Homo sapiens: one gene and its partners. The protein of the gene in region 2 purifies or fractionates together with the protein of the main gene of each other region. This does not show direct contact. Each region holds a gene or a part of one and is shown on either strand. Other genes may lie near its edges. The genes, in order: CRYBG3, GSK3A, PPP1R2 and PRUNE1.

The links.
Region 1: the proteins of GSK3A (region 2) and CRYBG3 purify together in Homo sapiens (affinity purification with mass spectrometry; 2 studies listed by BioGRID and IntAct, with this or other methods). This does not show direct contact.
Region 3: the proteins of GSK3A (region 2) and PPP1R2 purify together in Homo sapiens (affinity purification with mass spectrometry; 5 studies listed by BioGRID and IntAct, with this or other methods). This does not show direct contact.
Region 4: the proteins of GSK3A (region 2) and PRUNE1 purify together in Homo sapiens (affinity purification with mass spectrometry; 3 studies listed by BioGRID and IntAct, with this or other methods). This does not show direct contact.

What each region holds. Positions count from the first base shown.
Region 1 is NC_000003.12:97,936,995-97,944,020, forward strand, and holds part of CRYBG3 (very large A-kinase anchor protein), read left to right. Parts: intron 1-4,153; coding exon 4,154-4,312; intron 4,313-4,823; exon of another isoform or gene 4,824-5,289; coding exon 5,290-5,449; exon of another isoform or gene 5,450-6,231; coding exon 6,232-6,320; 3' UTR 6,321-7,026.
Region 2 is NC_000019.10:42,232,593-42,239,618, forward strand, and holds part of GSK3A (glycogen synthase kinase-3 alpha), read right to left. Parts: intron 4,350-7,026; coding exon 4,266-4,349; intron 4,125-4,265; coding exon 4,014-4,124; intron 2,087-4,013; coding exon 1,956-2,086; intron 1,868-1,955; coding exon 1,761-1,867; intron 792-1,760; coding exon 694-791; intron 614-693; coding exon 518-613; intron 91-517; coding exon 1-90. UniProt on the Homo sapiens protein: Constitutively active protein kinase that acts as a negative regulator in the hormonal control of glucose homeostasis, Wnt signaling and regulation of transcription factors and microtubules, by phosphorylating and inactivating glycogen synthase (GYS1 or GYS2), CTNNB1/beta-catenin, APC and AXIN1.
Region 3 is NC_000003.12:195,540,309-195,547,155, reverse strand, and holds the start of PPP1R2 (protein phosphatase inhibitor 2), read left to right. Parts: upstream 1-3,830; 5' UTR 3,831-4,130; coding exon 4,131-4,252; intron 4,253-6,847. UniProt on the Homo sapiens protein: Inhibitor of protein-phosphatase 1.
Region 4 is NC_000001.11:151,018,444-151,025,469, forward strand, and holds part of PRUNE1 (exopolyphosphatase PRUNE1), read left to right. Parts: intron 1-23; coding exon 24-226; intron 227-6,167; coding exon 6,168-6,352; intron 6,353-7,026. UniProt on the Homo sapiens protein: Phosphodiesterase (PDE) that has higher activity toward cAMP than cGMP, as substrate. Plays a role in cell proliferation, migration and differentiation, and acts as a negative regulator of NME1. Plays a role in the regulation of neurogenesis.

The DNA of each region.
Region 1 (7,026 bases), on a different chromosome or scaffold from region 2:
TTAATTTAGTTTGCCATTTACATAGTAGGGGGAGTGAATTAGGATGCGGATATCTTGTACATTTTAACCAATTTGTAAGATTGTATCTAAAGTCAACATTGGATTTCAGTTTTCAGTCCAAAGCCTCATTGGCCATGTTCACTTTTCGTGGAAAACTAAGATACTGTAAGTTCTGTGGCAAACCTTGGTAACAGGAATGAACTTTGATACTGTACTAGTTTTAATTTCTAAGCATTTGGATATTCCCCTCCCTACTTATATAATACTCAGGATGGATCCTGGCAATTTAATTAAAATAAGTATTTATTGCACACCTACTGCTTGTCAGTCTTCTGTTCAAAAGCTTCCCACTGCACTTAGAATACAATCTACCCGCTACCCCACCTTGCTTCTCCAACCTCATCTTTCACATGGTTGTGTCACAGGCATCAAAGTACAGAGTGGTTTCCCACTAAGACTTTTAACATGGGCTGCACCCTCTGTATCGTGTTCTTCCCTCATTCTTTATTTGACTAGTCATCCCTGTAAATTCTACTTAAGTGTCAGGTCCTCAAGAATGCCTCCCCCACCTTCTCTCCCAATCTACATTAGATCATAAAAGACCTGGGGGTTCTTTTTCTACAAAAACACTGTATGCAGTTTATAACCCTAGCGTTATGGTTGGATCGGGGTCTCTCCCACTCTATAGAAAACCCTGTGAAGTCAAGGACTGTCCATGTTTTGCTCATTGCTCTACCCCTAGTGCCTGAAACAATATCTGGAATATTGTAGGAGCTGAGGAACTATTTATTTAATGAAGGAATGAATATATCAGTGGATGGATCAATGATATTATGCAAAGTATAATGGAAAATATAAAGATAGATGCGATTTCTGCCAATATTATTAAAGCTTACATTTTTGTTGGGTAAAACATGTCCAACTCAAAGCAGTAACATAAAATGCAAAACAATGCATAATTATCCAAAAGCCACAGGCAGTCCCTGGTTCAGAGAAAGGAAGTATCAACATGTGTAGGAGTAGTGGGGAGGTTTCATGGAAGGTGGAAAACCCAAGTGAAACTGTCAGGGGTGTGATGGCCCGTGGATATGGCATTAGTACCTCTCTCTAATCTCTTTAGAACACTTTCTTGCTTGATTCCAACAACAGTCCTTTGAGGTAGGAATTATTATCCCCATTTTCTAGTTGGAATAATAAGGCTCTGAGAGAAGAATAAGGCTCCATCTGGAAAATGGGGATAATGATTCCTACCTGTGACAATAAAAGCACATCAAGTGTCAGAACCAGGATTTGGACCCAAATCTACTATGCTTTAAAATCTGTGTTCTTAAGCAACCACACTCTACTTTCCATCAGCCTAAGATCAGCACTTAGAGAGTACCACCTATTTCAGGCACTGAGCTGAATATAGCCTAGTGGATCTAAATGCTGAGGCTCTGATGTTCTGACCTGACACTTATTTAACCCTTACTTAAGTGTTAAATAAATGGTAGCCAATAAAATATTAACCTAATTGGTCTTCTCTCACCCTCTTCACATGCACACATGCACACATGCACACACACCATTCTCATCCCACCACTCATGAGTTCTGTTGGTTCAAATCCTGGCTCTGCCATTTGTAAGCAGTGCAGCTTGGTGAGTCACTTCATTTCTTGGCACCTTAGGTTTCTCACTGGTGAAGCAGTGATCACATTGCTTACATCTCATTGCTGTGACGGTTGAATAAGATAATGTATATGAACAGTCTGATATGGCTCTGGCTCATATTACTATGGTAATACACTTATTTTGAAAATTTTTTATTATTATTATTATTCACAATGTCCCTTGAGATGCTCTTTTGAGGGATACTGAAACATTAATGGCTTTCCTGGCACAGAGTGTGTGGTAGACGATCTCATGACCTTTACATCTTGCTTATTCCCCACTCCTATCATGTGGAACAGGGAGTAAGCCCACTGAAAAGCCATCAGAAAAAGCAAAGTAGAGATAGGAATTCAGTTTAGCTTTTACTAACTACATAATAATGCTGACCCTCTGTTGTTAGAGACTTTAGTAGCCAAGTTCAACAATGAAAATATGTTCCTCATTTTTTAATGGTGGTTCCTTGTTGGGGAAGAAGGATGTCCCTGCCTATTGTTCAAGATTGTCTGGTAAAGGATAGAACAGCCACCTCTACTTTTACAAGGAAGTTTTTTTTAACAAGAATAGTATGCTATTTTCTTTCACTGTGCGTTAGGAGCTACCTGATTCCTATTCTGATTAAACATTTAATTTCAAAATAATATTTTAATAGATTATTTTTCCTTTTGTTTATTTAGGTCACAGTTTTGAAATCCAACAAAGGAATTCTGAGTTTCTAAAATAGTAGTTTGTGGGTCACATTTAAATTTGTGGTAAGGCTGTTGGTACTGCTTTGGTTCATATTCTTGTTTAGAAATTCAGGACTAATTAAAATGTGATCCTCTTTGAGGCTGGGAATTAGGAAGTCACTAAGGTACTTATAATGTATATCAGTGTTTTTAAGTATAATTACAGAGCAGTCAGACTACAAATGTGTAATAAGGGTAATTAGTACCTTGCCTGAGTTAATTGATTAAAACTGTGATGTCTGGTCCTAAAGTAATTGGAACTCTGTCATCTGTGAAGGTCACGCCTGTTTTCTTATATGTACAAGGTAATGAAAATGTAATAAAGATATACTGAAGCCTCAAGAATTAATAATTGCAGTAGATCCGGCTGAATTATAGACATTTAAGTACACTACTGTTGCATTGTTAATGTTGGAAGTAGGGATTTGAAACATTTAAAACATTTTGCCAAGTAGAGAGCTTGTTCGCCTGGTTTAAATGGCCAGATAATTTGTCCTTCTATTGGCTTAAGTGCTGAGAATGTGTATTTCCTTAGGAAGGTTTAATTACCAAAATTCAGTTAGCTTCACGTTGATCTATCAAGTTTCAAAAACAGTAGACTGTTCATTGGTTCTCTTACCATATGACCTATTGCATTTACCTAAGCACTTATGTTTCTTAGCATGAAAGTGCTCTCTTAAGAGACCATTTGTTATTACTCAGCCAGGGTTCTAATTGGGATGGCAATGAGAAGAACCAAAGGTGGGGATGTTGGGTGTCATGTTGGGTGTCATTTATTACATTAAGGCTGGAGGCCTAAGTCATAGGGCTGAAATAATGGCTTCTGTTGTGCTTCCATTATGTGCCCTGCTCTTTCATTGTCCTACACTGCCACCTTTGGAATTCGTCTCTTATTCCCTGTGCCTAAGAGCAACTAGTGCATTTCAACATAGGTCTGAGAGCATCCTGGTTAAGAGGAACCTGGCTTCTTTACATCTGTGTTCACCTTATTTGTAAAACTAGGGTATAATTGTACTTTCTTAATAGGTTTTTGTGGTTATTCTGACAAATAACATAATGGCACAGAATGCATTTAGCATGCTGCTTACACATACTACGTGTTCAATAAATATTAGCTATTCTCCTTAGAGGCAAGTCCCAGGTTTAATATTTTAAAACTTTTTGTATGTATCTTAAAACTTCCAGGCCAAGGGGATGAAGTCCTTTGTTACACAATTTTTGAGTACCTAAGTATAGTCATTAAACATACATGGTCTCTACTTTTGAAGAAATAAAGGTCTTATATAAACAAATAATCACAGCTACTAGTGCCCTCAGCTATCTGGGTTTTTCAAGACCTCCCAGGGCCAACTTATGGCATTTAGTCATAGCTCCACAGTATGTCTTTCTGAAGTTTTTAGAAAATCCTTGTAGGTAATAACTCCCCTACCTCCCTCAGCACAGCTGGGACACACTATTGAATGAAACTCATCAAGTCCCTAATTCTTTACCACCCCACTCCTCACCACATGGAATTCTAGTGAAAGAAACTTTTACTTCATGCTGTTCAAAAGGGCACTTTTCACAAAGTGTAATAGAGACTGTACAATTTAAGCTTTATGCTCCACGGCCTAAGGATTTACCATATTAATCTATGCAGATTTACTAAAGGGAATAAGAGTGAAACTGATATAACTAAGATAGTTACCTCTCACTTTCCCTCCCAGCTTTCCTCCTCTGGAAGGATTCATTTCCAGATTCAAAAGTTTATTTCTAAATGGCTGTTTCTCCTGTCATAGCCTGCAGTGTACATCAGAATAAAGAACCGTGCCCAGGGTGAATATCTGACAGTCACTGGAAGTCTAGCAGACACCAGGGCAACATCTGTGTGCATTTCTCCCTATAGTGGAAAGAATACTCAGATCTGGTACTACTGCCGAGGACTCTTTAAATCCAAGGTAAGCAATCCCACTGATACAGTATGCCACTTTCTGGTCTGTTTTTTATTTTGAAAACTAGAATCCTGTCAAATCAACTGGCATGATAAAACAATGCAACTTCTTAGAAACAGGTGTTGATTATAAAAATACTGCCATATATTACTAAAACATTTATATAAAATTAACTTAATTTTTTGAACAAGAAAATCCAGTTTCAATTTTTAAGTAAACACAAAGGTTATCACATATTATGGATATACCTAAGTGATTTTTTACAACCAATGGTATAAGTCACCAGATCTAAGTTGGACAATGTGCTTTTGTAAGATGTTCCTTACTTGATGGCCCAGATAAAATCAGCCATCTCTGTGATTCTAAATATGTTGAAACCTTTCATTTTCAAAGTATACAAAGAAGCAGTAGAAGAAGAAAGCTGTTATTGGAAGAAGCTTAGAAAATAAAATTTAGGGTTCTTTTCTATGACCCTTCCGTTATGTTTAATGCATTGGGAATAGAACACTACTTTAAAAACATTCAAACTGTGTTTTATTGTATCACCAATGGATTATCTACTTTTTCTCATGCTTCAAAAATGAAAAACTTTTAAAAGTAATTATTGTCTGGATATCTTTAGCCCATCATGCAATGTTTTCATAAGAAAACCAAGCTCAACATAATACGTTTTAAGCAAACAGGGATTTAACATTTAATTCCAATTCACCAAATCTTTATTGAACATCTGTTGTCAGATGTAGACATCCTATTAAAAACAAGTACCTCTATTTCAGTTGGTTTATTTCTGTACCATCTCCTACCCACAGCCGTAAAGAAGACATTAAAAAAGGCTTACTGAAATTATACTATATAGTATTTTTTTAGATAAGACACACACACACTTCATGTCTATGACTTGTTTACCTAAGATAAAAGGGACCTAATTCAACTTACTTTAGCAAACATACTACTGCCAATTAATCATTTCTTAACCCTTTTAGGCCAGTGATACATGTCTTGATGTGATTGGTGGCCGGGACACACCTGGAGCTAAAGTAGCTCTATGGACTGAACATGGGCAATTCAGGCAGAAGTGGAGACTGAATAAAAATGGAACTATCAGCTCTTATCTCAGTGATCAACTTGTCCTTGATGTTAAAGGTGGGCCTTTGATGATACCCAATGTTGTGTCCCTGGATATTAGTTTCAGTTCCAAATCTCCTCATTTTGGGTAAAGGACATCCTTATGTATAAGAGAAATGTTAAGTCATTTAAAATTATGCTTGAAGAAAATTAAGATAGGCAGTTTTACAAACAAAACAATTAGCAGAAAAAGCCAAACAACAAAGCTTAGGGTTTTTGTTCATTAGTACAGTTGTAAAACTTTCATTTGCTACGTGAACTCAGAACAGTTCTAAATTTCAAGCACCATAAACCATGAAATGAATGTCATCTGTTTCTTAGAAACATCTCTAGCTTTTTGCCAGGAATTGCCATGGTCCTTAAAAACCCTCAGGTAGAATTTATGGTAGGTATCAATTAACCTTGTTTTTGAATTCAGCAAGGTCAGGGCCAATATTATTCATGGCTGTTGCTTTAATTGGGTTAGTCACAGTTTTGTTGGTGTAGAAACAAAAACACAGTACCTGACATTCAGCCAGAGTTCTCTCAAGAGCACTTTGTTCTAAAGAATCACATTAAGGCACGCCACTTATACAATCATGTATTATACCTTTTAGTATTTCAATTTGAGTCATAATAAGGTCCAATTTGAGGTGAATAATGGCTAAGCCTGTTCAAACTCAGCTTCCCATTTCAGACTTCTTTGTAAATGACACATTCATCCACCGAAATGGTGAGCTGAACAGAAGCTTGTGAAAATTGTGAAATTGCTAAGCACCTGCCTGAACAAATAATCTTTTCTTTTGGAATTTCTATTTTAGGAGGAAATTATTGTGACAAGACTCATGTAATTGTAAATCAGCCCCTGGAGGGAGAAGAAACACAGAAATGGGACATTGAAATATTGTGAGAGAATCAACATCCCTAGAAAGATCCCTAGAAAGAGCAAAGAAGGAAACACATCTGTCATTGTCTTGTGGACGTGGAAAGGAAGCTACTGTCCTCACACTCCTGGATCACTGAGCAGAATGAACATTTTCTCCAGCCTCTGAGACTATCGCTCTTAACCATGGAAAAGCTCAAAATATTCTTGCCATTACTCAGTGTTCCTATAAAGAAAATATTATGATATCTTGGAAAGGTTCTATTCCTGATCTCCAGCTGTGGTGAGCAAGTTTCCTGAAGTGTTTATTTTCTCTCATATCCACCAAACGTGAATCCTGTTCCTGATGGCCCGTTATTGGACACTGGTGATGCTATTATCCTGTATTATTTATTAATATCCTACCTAGATGCTTGTATGAGTACAAAGCATAAAGAAACAGATTTCTATAGGTCAAGTCATACTTTTGCAAACAGATGAGTAATTTTTTAGCAACACCTGAAAATATACTAAACTTTCCTAGATAAACTTTAAGGTTTCTATACTGAGGCTTTTATAATGAACGCACCTCGTTAAGTATTTATACTTGTAACTAACCCCAGGCAGGGACCTCAGCTTTGTTAGGAATAAGGCACAAGAAGTATTTTCTGTAGCTATTGTTTCCTCAGTCCTTCAAACTAAAAAAGTACAAATAAATAACCTATGGCCAAACTTGCACTGTTACGTGTTAACC
Region 2 (7,026 bases):
CTCTAGTGGGGAGAGCCTTGAGGATGGGGTGTACTCCAGCAGGCTAGAGCAGAGCGCGATGGCCTCTGGCGGCGTTCGAGATTTGAACACCTGAGGGATGGGTGCAGGGCTCATGAGGGTGAGATGCCCTGGACACTGGCATACTCCTGTTATCTCACTGCCACAGTGCCTGCGGCAAGTTATGACTGGTTGCTTCCCACACCCCCACCTTCCAAATGAAGAAACTAAGGCCCAACCACTAAGGAGAGGTCAGTTTGTATCGGGTAAGCAGGCAGCCCAGGTCTGGGACTATATGAGCCCTGCTGACCCTCCATAAAAATTGGAATCTTGAATTTACTTGTGGGTTCTCAACTTTTAAAATGCCATAAACTTTGAAAGCGGATGGATGTTATTGATCCCTGGATAACTCTTCAAATCCTCCCAAGCCGTGATTCTGAGGCTAGGTCCACAGAACAGTTGACCTCCAAGGGGGACCAGCTCTCAGCCATACTGCCCTGAGCCCCTAGCCCTGCCCCACCTTTGTCCAGGGGTGAGCTTTAATCTGAGGGAACTTGAACTCCGTGTAGTTGGGGTTCATCTCTCGGATTTGTTCCCGGGTTGGTGTTCCCAGCACCTGTAAAGAGAGGGAGGGGTCTGAGACAAGGGCCCCATCCCTCAGCCCCACCCCCTGCCCAGCCCAGCCCCGCCCCTCACCTTGATGATCTCCACCAGCTGGTCCACCCCACTGTCCCCAGGGAAGATGGGCTGGCCCAAGAGGAGCTCTGCCAGTACACAGCCAGCTGACCAAACATCTGAGGGGAAATGGAGGGAGCGTCAGGGCTAGGCGAGTAGGGCCACCAACCTCCCAATGCTTTTATTCCTCATGGCCATCCTAAGAGTGTCAGGAGCCCCGTTTTCTCAAAGACAAAGCACCTGGCCCAAGGTCACATGCAGCTTAGAAACATGGGCCCGACCTTGACCCTGCCTTTGCTGTACTCTCTAGTCTAGGTGTGTTTCCAGCCCTCAGTTCCTCTCTCTGCTAAGGACCCCAATGAGCTCCTTCTCTCCCGCTAGCCTTGGACGACAGACCAAATTAGGCCCAAACCTGCCAACAGGCACCCATGTTCTTTGGGCCACAGGAAGGTACAGCCTTAAATCCTGGACTGCCTTCCTCTTGTTCCAGCCTCTCTCCTGCCCATGAGAAGAGCTGCAGCGTGGCAGTCTCACCCCTCCCTGCTTTGTACCTTGACCCCCACAGCACGAGTTCATACCTAAGGACTCCACAGTTCGTCATGCTGCTGTGGAAGGTGCCCTTTCAAACTCTCATGCCCATTCCCTCAATTCAGACTTCCCCTCATGCCTGGAAAATGGCAGTTGTCCCCACAAACAGGGAAGGACACAGAGGCCCTGGGAGCAAGTTGCACCTTCATGGTGGCAAAGCCTTGCTTCCCGGTTCCCCCAAGGTCTCCAGCAGCCCTTCCCCCTAGCTGAGAACAGAGGGCTGACAGGGAGGTTCCAGAGCTGGTATGGACTCTGGAGTCAGGTCAGCTTTCAAATCCCAGTCCTGCCCAGTCCTAGTGGTGCCAGTGCGGGCAGGCGGCCTCACAGCTCTAAGCTCATCTGTAAAATTAGCATTCAACAGCATCAGCCTCCTAAGTTTGTGAGGACTGGATACAAGAACAGAAGTTAAGCTTTCATCACCAAGCTTGGCATACAGCACACAGAAAACTCCAAAACTTCCCAGATTGCCACTCCCCCCGCCACCCTCCCATAACTCTGACCGATGGATGAGGTGTAATCAGTGGCTCCAAAGATGAGCTCTGGGGCCCGGTAGTAGCGAGAACAGATGTAGGAGACATTGGGCTCCCCTCGGACCAACTGCTTTGCACTGTGGGAAGAGATGGGCAGGGGTACACGTGAGGCAAGGGTTGGGGTCCCCCCTGCCTCTTCAGCCACCCAACATGCCCCAGGCCCACCTGCCAAAATCGCAGAGCTTGAGGACAGCAGTGTCAGGGTCCACCAGCAGGTTCTGGGGCTTGATGTCGCGGTGACACACGCCCTGGGAGTGGATGTAGGCCAAGCTGCGGAAGAGCTGGTACATGTACACCTGCGGCGGGCACAGGATAGCAGAACTTTAGCCCAGCTTTCCCCATACAGCACCACTACCCCACCAGCTTGGCCTGAAGAGCCCTTCCAGGCCCACTCTCCCTGCTGCCCCCACAGCTTTGGGGAAACCCATTTGAAACCTTGGTTCTCTTAATGTGCACCACAATCACTTGAAGGACTTGTTAAAACAGGGACTACTGGCTGGGCGTGGCGGGTCACGCCTGTAATCCCGGTATTTTGGGAGGCCAAGACCAGCCTCGCCAACATGTTGAGATCCCGTCTCTACTAAAAATACAAAAATTAGCCGGGCGTGGTGGTGCACACCTGTAATCCCAGCTACTCGGGAGGCTGAGGCAGAAGAATCACTTGAACTCAGGAGGCGGAGGTTGCAGTGAGCCGAGATCGCACCACTGCACTCCAGCGTGGGTGACAGAGACCCTGTCTCAAAAAAAACAAAAAAAAAGGGACTGCTGGGCCCCACTCTTAGAGTTTCTGATCAGTGAGTTCTGAATGAGGCATTTGCAACAAGCTCTCCAGCACTGATGCTGGTCCCCGGACCACACTCTGAGAACCACTGCTTTAATCACAACCCTTGGCAGAAGCCTGATGAGTAAGGTACATCGGGAGGTTGTCATAAAACAGGCTAGGGAGCCAGGCACTCAGCTTCCCCCTCACCAAAACCACTGGCTCCTTAATCCGACAATCAAAACCACCCCTGAGCCTGCCCCCTCTCCAGCTCCATTTTCCTGCCACTCTCCCTCCCACTGACTAGAACAGAAGTACCGTGAGAGCAGGATTTTGAGTTTCAGTTACTGCTGCATCCCCCAGGGCCTAGACAGACCAGGTCCTGACATGGCTGCTTCCTAGGCCCCCTTCCTTTTATTCCAGTTCCCCTCGGCCAAAGATGCCACTTCCTTGCCCTGTGCTTGGTCTCCTCCAGGAAGCCTTCCTTGATCCTTCTCACCCACAAACCAGGCTGGGTGCTTCCTCCATTTCCAGAATTCCCTGTGCTCCTTCTGGTATGGCAGCAGCTAGTTCATTTAATAGTTTTCTGTGATGACGCCTTTCTACCCTACCAAACTGAGAGCTCTTCAAGGCCAAGGCCTGGGTCGCAGTCAGTGGTGCCTCTGGAATTCCTCAGCCCTGGGACCCGTATGCAGGCAGCCACAGGACAGATTCGCCAAACCAGAGAGCTCCCCTCCTGGGAAGTGAGGTCCAACAGCCACAACCACTGGTAGAGCCCACGTCGGCTCACCCGTGCTTGGTACGTAAAGCCAGCAGGAGCAGCAGCTGGGCCCCAAGTGACCTTCAGCAAACAAACCCACCCACCTCCTTCCAATGCAGTAGGCTGCTCCAGCCTGTTCGCCACATCATCCCTGGGCTGCAATCATTCATTCATTCATTCAAACACCTCCTGAAGGTCTGTAACACCCAGGGCACGATGCCAGGCACTGGGGAATGAGCCTGCACAGATGATGGACGGAGATGCATTCCTGGCTCTGTGGATGCTAACCTTCCTCCAGCCCTAACTCCTTCCCACCTACCCCCAGCCAAGGCTCTAAAGGCCCGAACTCTGGCCTCAGCAGCTGTCTCTGTGCAGTCCTGGTCCCCACCACCCCCTTATCCTGAGCTAACTCCAACATCTCTGGTGCCACTGGACTCCCTGTATGGACCTGAGCAACTACCTGGCAGCTTCTGCAACCCCAGGTGTCAGGCTGCCTTCCTGATTCAGTCAGGCCTTGCCTGCCTTGGCCCTCCCCTGTGTTAGGCGAGCTCCATCTCGGGGGGTTATGGGAACAACAGCAGGGGACATGGGGCCTCCAAAAACCAACATAAACTTGGCGGATGAGGGATCCCATAAAAGGCAGGAGGCTCCAGAGCCCCTGGCTTTGTGGGCCTGGGTCCCAGCAGCCCACCTGCTGGCCTACCTTGACATAGAGGATAGGGATGGTCAACTTGGCCTTGGTGAAGTGGCGGGCCACCCGGTACACTGTCTCGGGCACATATTCCAGCACCAGATTTAGGTAAAGCTCGTCTTTCTGCAGGGAGCAAAGGAGAGGTGTGAGGCACTGTGAGAAGAGTGAGGAGGGGGAAGGAAGGTATGCAGGGAGCAGTGGGGGAAAGGCAGGCAGGCAGGAAAATGGCTGGAGCAACCCACCACCACCACCTCGAGATCTCACCTTCTCGCCACTGGAGTAGAAAAAGTATCTCAGCCTCACAATATTGCAGTGGTCCAGCTTACGCATGATCTGCAGCTCTCGGTTCTTGAGGGCAAAGGGAGAGTCTCAGAATACAACCAACTCTCTCGGCTGCTCCTCCCTACTCACACTCACTCCCAACAACAGCCAGGCAGCTACTCCCTGTGTCCCAGCTCCAAGGTCCCCTGGAGTATCCCCCAATTCCTTGTCTCCAGACTATTCCCCTCCCACAGGAGCTGGAAGCCCACAGGTTAAACCCAGGCCACAGATGTGTTTTCTTCACCCCATTTTTTTTTTTTTTTGAGACAGAGTCTTGCTCTGTTGCCAGGCTGGCATGCAGTGGCTCAATATCGGCTCACTGCAACCTCTGCCTCCCTGGGTCAAGCAATTCTCCTGCCTCAGCCTTCCAAGTAGCTGGGATTACAGGCATGCACCACCACGCCCAGCTAATTTTTGTATTTTTAGTAGAGATGGGGTTTCACCACGTTAGCCAGGATGGTCTCGATCTCCTGACCTTGTGATCCACCTGCCTCAGCCTCCCTGACCTCATGATCCACAGGCCTCAGCCTCCCAAAGTGCTGGGATTACAGGCGTGAGGCACCGCGCCCAGCCACCCCACTTAAAAAAAAATTTTTTTTCAACTTATTGCTGACATGTAAAAGCCAAATGGCACCTTCTGATTTTTTTCTCCAAAATAAAGTTTTAAAAAGGATAGGCCAGGGCCAGGCGTGGTGGCTCACGCCTGTAATCCCAGCACTTTGGGAGGCTGAGGTGGGTGGATCACGAAGTCAGGAGATTGAGACCATCCTGGTTAACACGGTGAAACCCTGTCTCTACTAAAAATACAAAAAAAATTAGCCAAGCATGGTGGCAGGCACCTGTAGTCCCAGCTACTCGGGAGGCTGAGGCAGGAGAATGGCGTGAACCCAGGAGGCGGAGCTTGCAGTGAGCTGAGATCGCGCCACTGCACTCCAGCCTGGGCGACAGACTCTGTCTCAAAAAATAATAATAATAAATAAATAAATAAGATAAAATTTATTATTATTATTATTTTTAAAAGAACCTGGCTATGTTGGCCAGGTTGGTTTTGAACTCCTAGTCTCAGGCAATCCTCCTGCCTCGGGCTCTCCAAGTTCAAGGATTACAGGCATGAGCTACCATACCCAGCCTTAAAATAAAAATAAAATAAAAAACAGCTGGGCATGGTGGCTCACCCCTGTAATCCCAGCACTTTGGGAGGCCAAGGCAGGGAAATCACTTGAGGCCAGGAGTTCGAGACCAGCCTGGCCAACGTGGCAAAACCCCATCTCTACTAAAAATACAAAAAAATTAGCTGGGCATGGTGGCGCACGCCTGTGATTCCAACTACTCAGGTGGATGAGGTACAAGAATTGCTTGAACCCAGGAGGCAGAGGTTGCAGCGCTTGAACCCAGGAGGCAGAGGTTGCAGTGAGCCGACATCACACCACTGCACTCCAGCCTTAGTGACAGAACGAGATTCTGTCTTAAAAAAAAAAAAAAAAAAATAGAGACCATCCTGGCTAACTCGGTGAAACCCCGTCCCTACTAGAAATACAAAAAATTAGCCGAGAGTGGTGGCACACGCCTGTAGTCCCAGCTACTAGGGAGGCTGAGGCAGAAGAATCGCTTGAACCCGGCAGGCGGAGGTTGCAGTGACCCGAGATCACGCCACCACACTCCAGCCTGGGTGACAGCATGAGACTCCGTCTCAAAAAAAAAAAAAAAAAAAAAAAAAAGATTTCACATCTAAATCCAGTTTTCAGTTTGTCTTGAAAAATCAGGGCTAGGTATGCTGGCTCATGCCTGTAATACCAGCACTTTGGGAGGTCGAGGTGGGGGCGGATTACTTGAGGTCAGGAGTTCGAGACCAGCCTGGCCAACATGGCAAAACCCTGTCTCTACTAAAAATACAAAAAAAAAAAATTAGCCAGGCATAGTGGCCCATGCCTGCAATCCCAGCTACTCAGGTGGTTGAGGCACAAGAATCGCTTGAACCTGGGAGGCAGAGGTTGTAGCGGGCCAAGATCGTGCCACTGCACTCCAGCCTGGGTGACAGAGTAAGACTCCATCTCAAAAAAAAAAAATCAGGCATGGGCACATGAGGCTTGCCCCCCTACCTGGCACAAGCAACAACAGACAGGTAGTGGCCATCCAGCTCACTCTGGTCCCGTGGAAGCATCTGGGTCCTCGAACTCTATCTAGGATCCTGAGTCCCAGACTCCAGGCATTGGACTTTTCCCAGAATGCGGTCTCAGCATTCTTCCCCATTCTCTATTCCTCAGTGAGGCCTAGGAACTCCCTGCCCCTACATCCCTCTTACTTCTGGAACTCAACTCCAATCAAATTCTGACACCCTGGAGCTCCTCCTGCCCAAGGGCCCTCCCTGCCAAGACCGAGGCCCTGGTCTGGTTCCTTTCCAGTCTAGGCTCAGTTCTCCTACATCCAGACTAGTCTAAGCTCCAAATGCCAGGCCCTTAAACACCAATTATTCCTCAACTTCCACTTCCTCCATCTCCTTCTAGTTCCCTGAGCCTCTCCTAGCTCACAGGGCACCTCCATTCCATTCTGCGCTGGCCAAACACCTGGGAAGAGCGCGACCTTCAGAACCACCCGCGCTAGCCCTGCCAGGTCCCTTTCTCTCCTGGGAAGAAGTGTAACCAAATGGTTAAGGTAGAGGGTTTGGGAATCAGATTCCAGCCTTGACTGGGGCACTTGCTCTATG
Region 3 (6,847 bases), on a different chromosome or scaffold from region 2:
AGCCTATACTCCTTATCCCATTATGAGTTCATAGAATAACAAAATGCAAGATAATTTGGCAAAATTGACACAATGAAATTATAATACACAACATTGCTCCCTTGCTTCTTGCAATAATAAACCAAACCAATTAACACTTACAGAAAATTTACAGTCACAAAAGACTGAGTGATTTCTGGCAGGCACAAGGTAAATTCATAGCTTAGCCAAAAAACTAACTCATATTTCCTACTTACCATTCCAAGGTTTGTTACACTGCGTGTCCTGCCTTCTTCTTTCGTTTTTGCCTCACAGGTTCTGAAAGAAGTAATTGCCTAGAGTCTCTGAATTTAACCAGTTTTTAAAAGGATCAGGAAACATCTAGGGACTAATGAAATCTCTGTGTACCCTAGGGGGGCCTATGCTCTGTGACTCTTCTCAGAAAAGTATTTTGGCCACTTGGTAAGGTTAAGGAATCCTTTCAGTAGATGTCTTTGAAGAGAAGAGAAACAGTGGAGCATTCCATGGTTGCAAATCAAAGCCATTTTTTTTAAGCAGAAAAATGATTAATCTTTGTCCTTGGCTTTTTCTCTCTCTGAAACTTTCTGTTTTGTTTAAATGATCTTGCCCCTGCTACCATGAATTTCTACAATGTATTTAATATGACAAAATCTGTGATCTTCTCTTTCCGGGGAGGGATTACCTGAAAAGGAAAAGAACAATGTGCTATTCTTGGCAAGAAAAGAGTTGCTGCTGACTCAGTGGTCATGAAGTCACAACTTTTGGGAATTTTTCCAGATGTTAGGCGGGGGCACTACCCACTTCTCTACTCTGTGGACCTAGCTGATGACTCAGGCAGGCTGGGTGAGCCAACCATGGAAGCCACTGTTGCTTTGGAACTCTGTCCTTGGTGGGAAACCCAATGGTGGTGTCCATAGTCGTCTGTTCCAGTGAATGGAGAGCCAAATGACTCAGCCACGTGATGGGGTACAATAAAAGTGTCCCCTCTCCTCCTCCAAATATGTTGTGTTGGGTCAGGCAACCATGATAATGAAGTCTTCAAAAAGAGAGCAGAGATAAATGCCAGATTATCCTTAAATCATGTATATATCTTTAAATATATGATTTGCCTTGAGCTCAATAGCTACTTCCAGAAACTGAAACCAGAATGAAAGATTCTATCTACAATTCACCTCCTGGCAGCCAAACCCTCAACACACAGGAAATGTAACAGCAATACAGCTAAATTCAGTGCTCGGGCTGTTTGGTCCAGATAACTTCCTACAGGAGCAAACCTCAGCAGAGGCACAGAAGGAGAGCTCTGTTTAGAGGCATTTGAAAATCTTATTTGGGCCACACTGAGGAATAAAGTAGTTCAACTATTCTGAAAGATAAGGAAAAGCAGGCCATGTGTGGTGGCTCATGCCTATAATCCCAGCACTTTGGGAGGCTGAGGCGGGCAGATCACCTGAGGTCAGAAGTTTGAGACAAGCCTGGCCAACATGATGAAACCCCATCTCTACTAAAAATACAAAAATTAGCTGGGTGTGGTGGCAGGCACCTGTAGTCCCAGCTACTCGGGAGGCTGAGGCAGGAGAATCACTTGAACCCAGGAGGCAGAGGTTGCAGTGAGTGGAGATTGTGCCATTGCATTCCAGCCTGGGCGACAGAGCAAGACTTTGTCTCAAAAAAAAAAAAAAAAAAAGCAGTACTGGCCCTCACAATTTTACAAACTATTTTTTTTTAAGTGCTACCAAAGTCATCTTCATCTGCATTCATTTGTTGTGGGTTTGGGAGTGGAAGAACCAGTACAGGAGACAAAAGTTTAACTCTTGATGAGGGAAATATGTTTCCAAGGTTCTTCAGAGAACTCTTCATCACCTCCTGTTCCAATGTTTGTTAGTTAATTAACTAATAAAACACTTTATGTCATACGATCGTAGTCCCTTTCATTAGAGGGTCTGAAAGCAAGCTGTTGCTTAATCAAGGGCCCAGTCACAGTTGAGTTCAGGGATGCTGAACTCAGTGATGCTTCCCAGCCCAAGCAGGAACAAAGCAAATCTGCCCAATAATTTGGAACATACAGGGAAGTTTGTGTATTCCCTTGAAAACAGGATTGCCATCACTGACCTAGACTCCTGCTGACAGGGCAGGAGACGCAACACAGGTGTTGAACACTGGGGTGGAAAGAACTCAGGAAGGGAAGGGAGGTGGCCATCCTGCTTCCCCTCGCTGAGAACCCTCTCTCTCTGCTCCATGGGCTGGACAGGGCTGTCAGGGTGTAATGTTAGATCCACTGAGCAGTCCTGGCCTGGGAGGGAGAGACGGCACCAGTGGATATTTGACTGGGAACAAAGGTGGGGACAGTGCCAACAGTGACTGTGCAGGCCCCTGGCTGAGGCAAATCCCTGGGGAACACATTCCACTCTGTGACCAGCAACCCTGTTTCCCTTCTCCCCTTCCAGCTCACTTCCCCTCCATTATCTCCATCCACATCCATTCCCATACTGAGGCCCTGTTCTGTGCCAGGAACTCATCTAGGAGCTAGGGGCTCGGGGCCAGACGATAAAAACAATCGTTTTCAGAACCCTACAGTCATCCCTGAGGGGCAGAGTCCTAAGGACACAGAACAGGGTCATCCTCAAAAGGCACAGAGCCTGTGTTAAAGAAGATGAGACTGTGGTCCAGAGATGAGCCATGGGAGTGAAACTGCTGCTATAGGGGCTAGATAGGGGAAAACGCTTCCTCTCACCCCCCACAGCAGTGGACAGACATTGCTGGGAGCGAGGTGTCAGCTCAATCTAAGAACTCCCAGAGTCAGAGCTGTCCAAAAACAAAATGAGTTACACGGGGGTGTGGCGGGCTTCTAGCCCCTGGGGTTGTTGGAGAAACAGGCTGAATAGCCACCTTATGGGCCTGCTTGACAAGGTCCCTTCCAGGACCAGTGGTCTGTGAATCCGCAGGGGCTGGTCCACCGGAGGGGCCAGTTCTGGGTGGCTCAGTCTGCTGTGCTCTAACCTGTGGTGAGGACGATAAAAAGGCCTGATCAAGAAAGAGTCATGGAAAAGAGCCTGGTGATGAGCGAGCTGCGGACTGGACTTGGGAGAGGGAGGGAAGGGAGTGTACAGGGACCATAACAAATACCACACACGAGGTGGCTTTAAGCAATGGAAATGGGCTCTCCGTTCTGCAGGCTTGAAGTCCACATCAACCTGCGGCAGAGTTGGTTCCCTCTGTGGGGGGAACCTGTCGCGGCCTCTGCGGGCCCAGGAGGTCCTTGGCTGGGAGATGTGTCCCTGCCGCCCTCCCGTCTCCTGCGCTCTCTGCCTAGACGGGTTGTGCGACGGCGGGGGTCGCTGCCCGTCTGTCCGTCGGCTTCTCCAGCGGTAAAAGGAGGTGAGGCGATTCCAATGCAGACATTCTATGATTTCATAATAGGCCTCTAAGGACCACTCCAATGCTGGCAGTCCATGCTTTTATAATAGGCAGTTCGGCTGTTTACACGGGCGAAATGGAAAGAGGAGATACCCGTTTTCTTCAAGTCAGCTAACCTCTCTGCGGAGTGACGTCACCTCGAGTCTCAGTCTGCTGATCTAAAAAATAAAAATAACACTACGGCCTCACAAGGTGGTGGGACGAGGGTGCTCGAGAGACGCGCGGGTCCGGGAAGCAGCAAGCCCGGGCGCTCTCCCGCAGGTTCTCAGAGACAGCTCCCGCCTCCCAGCGCCGCGCGGGGGCGGGGCGAGCAGCCCGGGCGGGACGGAGGGGGCGGGGCGAGGAGGTCGGCTTTGTTCTCGCCCCGCCCTCTCCCCGCCTCCTCCCTAGATATCGCGAGAGGGCGGGTCCGCTTGGCTTCGGCGTCGCGTCGCTCCTGCGCTGGAGCTCTAGGCCGGCGTCTCTCCGCGAGCCGCGGGTCAAGTGCCAGTGGCTAAGGGTGCGCGAGTAGCCGCCACCCGTTCGGCGTTGGCTCTGGCGTCGGGGTCGTTGTGTCGTGACAACCGCTGCGGTAGCCGTTTCCGAGGCAGCAGTTGCGGCCGCTTTAGCCCTGAGCGGGATCTGCGGCTGCCTGCGAGTCTCTGCTGTGCCGACCCTTCTCTTCGCGGACCCCACGCCAAGCAGCGACCCTGAGCCGACAGCCGGAGCGCCCGGCAATGGCGGCCTCGACGGCCTCGCACCGGCCCATCAAGGGGATCTTGAAGAACAAGACCTCTACGACTTCCTCTATGGTGGCGTCGGCCGAACAGCCCCGCGGGAATGTCGACGAGGAGCTGAGGTGAGCGCTGGGAGGGACGGCCTGGGAGCCCCTCCTTCCCGCCGGGCCCGTTACCTACCCAGACCCCAGGGGCGGGCGGGCGGCGTGGATGCGGCTCGGGTGCCGCTCGAGTCTCTTCTCCTGCCCGGCTAGCCGCGGGTGGGAGCGATCTTTAAGAAGGCTGGGCGATGACGTTTATCATGCTTCCTTTTTTTTTTTTAAGCATTTGGGCATATATAATATTTTTAAACATCATCTTTGAACTTTCTGTAATCGGGAACATCAAAGAATGAAATTGAAGCTTCAGATCTTCGACTGTTAAGCTTTTACTATTTCTTAACCTCATCTCTGAGGTATCTAAAATTCTTCGATAATTACAGTGTATTTTCTTGCTTTGGGAACCCTTTAAGATCTAGTCTCAAGCTAATAGGCGATCCGTCAAAGAAGAGACCATTTCCCCCATTAGCATTGTGCCACACTGTATTTCTGCATCTGCAACCAGAGTTTTGGGTGCTTTCTAGTTTTTGTTCCTGTTCAGAGATAGATCTAAGCTCAAAACAGTTCAAAGAGGAGCAACTTGAAATGACCCAGTGGTAATTTAGTTGCTCTTGCATACGCTAAAGATACACATGTAAAAAGTTGTTGACCTGAGCATTGTATGTAATATTTATAATATAATTGGAAACGACCGGAAGTCCATTAGTAAGAGCTGGTGAAATATTAATTACGGTACGTTTGTATAATGGAACAATATACTAGCCTTTAAAAAAAGAAAGGTAGGCGTTTATGCACGGAGAAAATGTTGCAGTACAGTATCTGTAGTGGGTTAGAAGTGCACGGGGGCTTGGGCGTTGCAAGATACTAAAAATAGAAGGACTCTACTTTCTGAAAATAAGGCTTAAGAAAAGTTACCATTGAAATTGGTAGTCAGAAGCTAAAATGAGGATGTTTGTGAAATCTCAGAATATAGGAACCTAGGGCATTCCTGGATAAAGGATCTTATTTAGGACCATAAAAGGAACTACTGCTTGGTGGTGGTAAATTTTAGGGATTTGTGTTACCTTGAAGGAAATATTGAGTAGGTTCATAGGTTAGAATCGTGGCCTTTTGGGGCTGGAAAGGACCTTAGTTTTTGTCTAGCAACTCCCACGCTCATGGATGCTTGAATCTTACATTCTCTCACACACAATTTTCCAACTTCTTTGGGCTAAGCCACGTTAAATGGAGTGCTGGGGGAGTGTGATGTGTAGGTCATGGAATTAAGAAGACAGAATTTCACCAGAACATAACTGAAGCAGGAGAACCAAGTTAGTTAAAAGATAAATAACATCCAGGCGTGGTGGCTCACGCCTGTAATCTCAGCACTTGGAGAGGCCAAGGTGGGAGGATTGCTTGATCCCAGGAGTTTGAGACCAGCCTGGGCAACATAATGAGACCTCATCTCTTAAAAAAAAAAAAAAAAAAAAAAAGGAAAGAAAAGAAAAGGAATTAAAAGATAAGTAACGTAACTACAGAAGGCTCAAATGTAGCTTCAGGGTTTTCAGCAGCAGGAATGTGGTCCTTACTGGCATTTATGTTATTTAGCTGTTCTCCAGTGTGAGTTTCTTTTGGTCCATTTACCAAGTGAGTTACTCTTTATCTCTGCTTCTTTAGTTTCTGTTTATTCTTAACTTGGATCTGCTGTAATTTCCCGTGGGCCCAATCTATGGATTGGCCTCTTTCTTTCTGTAATTGGTTGGGATTTACATTCAGGTCTTTCTGCCTCAAAAGCCACTATACTAGACTGACTCAACTGCATAGGGCTGCCTCTTCTGTAGTATCTGTGGCAGGGTAGATTCACTTAAAAGGGACTGACCTGTCGAGTTAGAGTTACAGTCCTGTCTTTAAAGAGAACTATCAAACCCTAATTCATTGAAGTTCATGATGTTTGGTTCCAAGTGGTAAAAAGGATGGGTTTTTTAATGATCCTTGTTATGTGACTGTAAAGCAAATAAACTAATTCTACTAGTAATACAATATAGTCTTAGTCTGTTTTCTGTTGGTCATAACAGAATGTCTGAAATGATAATTTATAAGAAACTGAATTTATTTCTTACGGTTCTGGAGGCTTGGAAGTCCAGGGTCTTAAGGGTGCATCTGGTGAGAGCGTTTTTGCTGGTGGGGACTCTGTGGAGTTCCAAGGTGGTGCAGGGCATCACATGGCAAGGAAGCTGAGCGTGCCAGCTCAGGTCTCTCTTCCTCTTCTTATAAAGCCACCAGAACCACTCACTTGATAACCCATTAATCCGTGAATAGATTAATCCATTCATCAGAGCAGAGCCCTCATGACCCAGTCACCTTTTAAAAGCTGTGCCTCTCCACACTGCCACATTGGAGATCAAGTTTCAACGTGAGTTTCAGAGAGGACAAACGTTCAAACCATACCAAATATACATTATTATTTGTCACAAGTCATGCAAACTTTATGAGATCCTCTTTGAACAGAAACAATAAATATACAGTTGGCCCCCTCCACAAATTCAGCCAATACCAAATAGCCCTTTACACTTGGGAGCCATTTTACACACCAGATTCACCAACAAAAATGCAGGAAAGGACCCTAAATAGGCCACGAAA
Region 4 (7,026 bases), on a different chromosome or scaffold from region 2:
CTTCTTTTCACTTTCCTATCTAGACAACTGAGGCTGAGGAAGTCTTTGTGCCAGTTTTAAATATAAAACGTTCTGAACTACCTCTGCGAGGTGACATTGTCTTCTTTCTTCAGAAGGTTCATATTCCAGAGAGTATCTTGATTTTTCGGGATGAGATTGACCTCCATGCATTATACCAGGCTGGCCAACTCACCCTCATCCTTGTCGACCATCATATCTTATCCAAGTAAGCACAAGGAAATTAAATTGCTACCTATCATGTACCATGCTGGGCTCTGATGAGTGAGATATAAAGAGAGGAAGAAAGAGTTTTTGCTGGCTGGGCATGGTGGCTCATGCCTGTAATCCCAGCACTTTGGGAGGCCAAGGCGGGCGGATCACCTGAGATCAGGATTTTGAGACCAGCCTGGACAACATGGCAAAACCCCGTCTCTACTAAAAATATAAAAATTAGCTGGGCGTGGTGGCAAGTGCCTGTAATCCCAGCTACTTGGGAGGCTGAGGCGGGAGAATCACTTGAACCTGGAAGGTGGTGGTTGCAGTGAGCCGAGATCGTGCCACTGCACTCCAGCCTGAGCGACAGAGCCAGACTCCGTCTCAAAAAAGAAAGAGTTTTTGCTTTCAGGGATCTCATAGGCTAATCATAATTGATAGGTCATATTAGATATAGAAAAACAACACAAAATATTGTCAGTTCTGCAGTTATATGTATGTCTGTGGCATATAGACATACCCTATAATAAAAAGAAATAGAACGTGTTGAGTTCAAACTAAAGGGTAACTCAAAAATCATTTAAATCTGCCTTTGGTATCATTATTTAAGATTTTGTGTGCCGGGTGTGATGGCTCACGCCTGTAATCTCAGCACTTTGGGAGGCCAAGGCAGCCAGATCCATTAAGCTCCAGGAGTTCAAGACCCGCCTGAGCAACATGGCAAAACCATGTCTTTACAAAAAATTTTTAAAAATTAGGCACGGTGGTGCATGCCTATGGTCCCAGCTACTCGGGAGGTTGAGGTGGGAGGATCACTTGAGCCCAGGAGGTCGAATCTGCAGTGAGCCAAGATCACACCACTCCACTCCAAGCCTGGGAGACAGAGGGAGACCCTGTCTCAAAAAAAAAAAAAAAAAAGATTCTGAGACAGATTTATTGTAATAGAAACCTTTGAAAAATGTTTGCAATTCTCTTTTTATTTTTTTACTTATTATTTATTTTTGTACTTACTTATTAAATTTTTTTTAGAGAAGAGGGTCTTGCTATATTGCCCAGGCGGATCTCAAATTCCTAGGCTCATGCTATCTTCCTGCCTCTGCCTCCCTAAGTGCTGGTTTATAGGTGTGAGCCACCACACCTGGCCTGCAACTCTATTTTTAATTTTAATTTTAATTAATTATTTTTTTTTGAGATGGAGTCTTGCTCTGTCACCCAGGCTTCAGTGCAGTGGTGTGATCTCGGCTCACTGCAACAACCTCTGCCTCCTGGGTTCAAGCGATTCTCCCTGCCTCAGTCTCCTGAGTAGCTGGGATTACAGGTGCGCGCCACCATGCCCAGCTAATTTTTATATTTTTTACTGGAGACAGGGTTTTGCGCTGTTGGCCAGGCTGGCCTGGAACTCCTGACCTCAGATGATCTGCCCACTTTGGCCTCCCAAAGTGGTGGGATTACAGGCGTGAGCCACCACACCTGGCCTATTTTTAATTTTTAAAAAGTGGCCTGGTGTGGTGGCTCACGCCTGTAATCCCAGCACTTAGGGAGACCTGTCTGACCACTATAGCGAGACCCTGTTCTCTAAAAAAAAATAATAAATACAAAAATCTATAAACATAGTGTGACCTTGTCTCTACTAAAAATAAAAAAATTTGCCAGGTGTGGTAGTGCATGCCTGTAGTCCCAGCTACTTAGGAGGCTGCTGAGGTGGTAGGATCACTTGAGCCTAGGAATTGAGGCTTCAGTAAGCCATGATCACATCACTGTACTCCAGCCTGAGTGACAGGGCAAGAACTTGTCTCCAAAAAAATTTTTTTAAGTTATCAAAAGGGCCAGGTGTGGTGGCTCACACCTGTAAACCCAGCACTTTGGGAGGGTGAAACAGGAGGGTTGCTTGAGCCCAGGAGTTCAAGACCAGCTTGGGCAAGATGGTGAGATCCCATCTCTACAAAAAAATTTAAAAGCACACAAAAAGTTAGCAAAAGTTTTTCTACATAAACTCTTACGATTTTAGAATAATGTATTATGTTAGAATATATAAATATCTCAGGCCAGGCGCGGTGGCTCATGCCTGTAATCCCAGCACTTTGGGAGGCTGAGGGGGGCGGATCATGAGGTCAGGAGATGGAGACCATCCTGGCTAACATGGTGAAAACCCGTCTCTACTAAAAAATACAAAAAATTAGCCGGGCATGGTGGCGGACGCCGATAGTCCCAGCTACTCGGGAGTCTGAGGTAGGAGAATGGCATGAACCCGGGAGGCGGAGCTTTCAGTGAGCTGAGATCATGCCACTTGCACTCCAGCCTGGGCGACAGAGCAAGACTCCATCTTAAAAAAAAAAAAAAATAGCTGGGCGTGGTGGCTCGCGCCTGTAAGTCCCAGCTACTTGGGAGGCTGAGGCAGGAGAATCGCTTGAACCTAGGAGGTGGAGGTTGCAGTGAGCCAAGATCGCGCCACTGCGCTCCAGTCTGAGCGACAGAGTGATGCTCTGTCTCAAAAAAAAAAAAAAAAAAATTAGCCAGGCCGGGCGTGGTGGCTCACGCCTGTAATCCCAGCACTTTGGGAGGCTGAGGCGGGCAGAATCACCTGAGGTCAGGAGTTTGAGACCAGCCTGACCAACATGGAGAAACCCCATCTCTACTAAAAATACAAAATTAGCCAGGCGTGGTGGCACATGCCTGTAATCCCAGCTACTCAGGAGGCTGAGGCAGGAGAATTGCTTGAACATGGGAGCCAGAGGTTGCGGTGAGCCGAGATCATGCCATCGCACTCCAGCCTGTGCAACAAGAGCGAAACTCCGTCTCAAAAAAAAATTTTTTTTAATCTATAAATATCTCAATAATGTCTGTTTAACAAATGTACACATTTATAATAATTCCATCCCTAATTTACTACTGGAAAAAACTACCAAAAAAGCAACACGATTATGTGACTTTCCTAAGTCTGTTTGGCTCCTGCTAATATTTTTTTCTTGAGCACATTGTGGTTATAGCAGGATACTGACAGAAGGCAGCCTGAGAGAGCATTATCCATCTATGGATTCATTCAGTAATAAACTTTCCTTTTTTTTTCTTTTTTTTTTTTGAGACAGAGTTTTCTCTTGTTGCCTAGGTTGGAGTGCAATAGTGCAATCTAGGCTCACTGCAACCTCCGCCTCCCGGGATAATTTTGTGTGTGTGTGTGTGTGTGTGTTTTTAGTAGAGATGGGGCTTCACCATGTTGGTCAGGCTGGTCTTCAACTCCTGACCTCAGGTGATCCGCCCACCTCGGACTCCCAAAGTGCTGGGATTACAGGTATGAGCCACCGTGCCACCACCTTTTTTTTTTTTAAGAGATGGTGTCTCTCTCGCTCTGTCTCCTAGGCTAGAGTACAGCGGCATCATCATAACCTTGAGCTCCTGGGTTCAAGGAATCCTCCCGCCTCAGCCTCCTGTGTAAAAGCATCATTCCTGGCTAATTTTTTTTTTTTTTTTTTTGAAACTGAGTTTTGTTCTTGTTGCCCAGGCTGGAGTGCAATGGCACCATCTCGGCTCACTGCAGTGAGCCTCCCAGATTCAAGTGATTCTCCTGCCTCAACCTCCCAAGTAGCTGGGATTACAAGCATGCGCCACCACACCCAGCTAATTTTTTGTATTTTTAGTAGAGACGGGGTTTCACCATGTTGGCAAGGCTGGTCTCAAACTCCTGGCCTCAAGTGATCCGCCCGCCTCAGCCTCCCAAAGTGCTGGGATTACAGGCGTGAGCCACCACGCCCGGCCTGGCTAATTTTTTTTTTTTTTTTTTAAGAGACGTAGTCTCGCTCTGTCGCCCAGGCTGGAGTGCACTGGCGCGATCTCGGCTCACTGCAAGCTCCGCCTCCCGGGTTCACGCCATTCTCCTGCCTCAGCCTCCCGAGTAGCTGGGACTACAGGTGTGCCCGCCACCACACCTGGCTAATTTTTGTATTTTTAGTAGAGACAGGGTTTCACCGTGTTAGCCAGGATGGTCTCGATCTGACCTCGTGATCCGCCCGCCTTGGCCTCCCAAAGTGCTGCGATTACAGATGTGAGCCACCATGCCCAGCCTTTATTTTTTATTTTAAATATATATATTTTTTTTTTATGGAACAGTTCACAAATGTGCATGTCATCCTTGCTCAGCGGCCATGCTAATCTTCTCTGTGTCATTCCAATTTTAGCGCATGTGCTGCTGAAGTGAGCACTGATCTCAGTCTTGAAAGAGGACTAGGTGTTTGCTTGGTGAATTGGGAGGGAGGAGGGAAGGTGGTTAGGAAAGGCATTCCAGGCAGAGGGAGTAATTAATAGAATCAAATGCAGGCAGGCGTGAAATAGCATGGTGAGCTAGGGGAAATGGAATTTGTTTTGCACAGCTGGAGCATAAAATTTGAGGGAGAAGTAGGACATGGAAAAAGATGAGACAGAGGGGGCAGGCAGGAGGCAGATTATGGAGGCCTCATAGGCCCTTCTAAGGTGATTGGATTTTATTTTAGGCCGTGGGGAACTATTTTAAATTATATTCTGGGTCCTAAAAGAATCAGATTTTCTTTTTTCAAATGATCATTCAGGCCACTTTGTGAAGGACAGCCCAGGAGGGCTCTTGGTTGGAAGCAGGTGATTGGTTAAGAGACTACTGGAATAGTCCAGACGAGAGATATTGAGGGCCTAGAGTGGGGCAGTAACAGAGAGTTAGAAACTAGGGCATGGATAGGAATTAAGATAGAATTCACAGGACCTGGTGACCCACATGGAATCTAAGTATTGAGTGGGTTATAAAAATAGGAGAGATTTGCTGGGCGCGGTGGCTCATGCCTGTAATCCCAGCACTTTGGGAGGCCGAGGCGGGCGGATCACGAGGTCAGGAGTTCGAGACCAGCCTGGCCAATATGGTGAAACCCCGTCTCTACTAAAAATACAAAAATTAGCTGGGCCTGGTGGTGGGCGCCTGTACTCCCAGCTACTTAGGAGGCTGAGGCAGGAGAATTGCTTGAACCTGGGAGGCGGAGGTTGCAGTGAGCCAAGATTGCACCACTGCACTCCAGCCTGGGCGACACAGCGAGATTCCGTCTTAGAAAAAAAAAAAAAAAGGAGAAATTTAGATGTTGGGTATCAAGGGTGTCAAGGGTATAGGGTTGGAAAGGCAACGCTAAAGGACAGCAAATGTGGGGGTAAGATATTTGCAGCAGATGCTTCACAGAATTTGCTTATACACTATTTAAAGATGACTCCAATTATAACATTAAAGAAAAGAATTGCTGGGCGCGGTGGCTCACGCCTGTAATCCCAGCTCTTTGGGAGGCCAAGGCGGGCAGATCACGAGGTCAGGAGTTCGAGACCAGCCTGACCAACATGGTGAAACCCCATCTTTACTAAAAATACAAAAAAAAAAATTAGCCGGGTTTGGTGGCACGTGCCTTGTAATCCTGGTTACCCAGGAGGCTGAGGCAGGAGAATCACTTGAACCCGGGAGGTGGAGGTTGCAGGAGCCGAGATCGTGCCATTGCACTCCAACCTGGGCAACAGAGTGAGACTCCGTCTCAAAAAAAAAAAAAAAAAAGAATTGAGAGGAGTTAGGCAGAGGTAAAAGTAACCAAAGGTCAGTTTTAAATGCTTGCCTGGCAGATCACCTGAGGTCAGGAGTTTGAGACCAGACTGGCCAACATGGCGAAACCCCATCTCTACTAAAAATACAAAAAAATTAGCTGGGCATGTTGGCAGGCGCCTTTAATCCCAGCTACTCAGGAGGCTGAGGCAGGAGAATCGCTTGAACCCGAGATGCAAAGGTTGCAGTGAGCCAAGAACGCACCATTGCACTCTAGCCTGGGCGACAAGAGTGAAACTCCGTCTCAAAAAAAAAAAGACATCTGCATTTTCCTTGATGTGTGGGGTAGAGGTTGGCTAGAAGCAGCTGGAGTGTCCGTACCTATCTTTCTTCCTCTTTTCCCATACCCTCCCCTCCACAGAAGTGACACAGCCCTAGAGGAGGCAGTAGCAGAGGTGCTAGACCATCGACCCATCGAGCCGAAACACTGCCCTCCCTGCCATGTTTCAGTTGAGCTGGTGGGGTCCTGTGCTACCCTGGTGACCGAGAGAATCCTGCAGGGGGCACCAGAGATCTTGGACAGGCAAACTGCAGCCCTTCTGCATGGTAAGGGTGGCTTTTGGATTGGGACCTCAGTAGTTCTATTCCTGTCCCTGAGAAGGGAGGGTGGAAAAGTCTAGACGCTTCCAGCCTAACCATATGCTCTCAGAGCCATTCAGCTCATACCAAAAGATAGGATTCTTTCAGGGGACAATTGAGCATGTGTTTAAAGGCCTGTGGGATACTTGTTGGAGAAAGTAGAAAGGAAGTGCAGGGCAACAGACCAAGAAGCTTCCTATTGGCATCATTTTATGATGGAAGGAGGATTAGCTAAAGAAGCAGGAAACAGATTCCAATACCAATTCCTCCAGGAAATAGGTGACCTTGAGCAAATCTCTTAACCTTTCTTGTTCTCATTTTTCCACTTGTAAAAAAAAAGAGAGAGAGAGTGAGTTGGACTAGACTGTCTTTTCCAACTTAGAAGATTCTTTGATGGGATTTGGCCTACTGAAGAGGTGTATCTCTGTCTGACTAGGCTGTAAAATCTCCAAGGTTTGAGATGCTCAGGCTTTCTTTCTACCTTTTCCCCATTTCCCTTCCTACATTTTAGTTTGGATTTGGGAGGTCTGAGGACACTGTCCATCCCAGTTTCTCATTTTGCTTTCAGAGATTTTGCTATACAAATCTCCTTGTGTGTGTCCATTTGGTGTGAAGGTTATATATGTTCTGGTGGTTGTGTG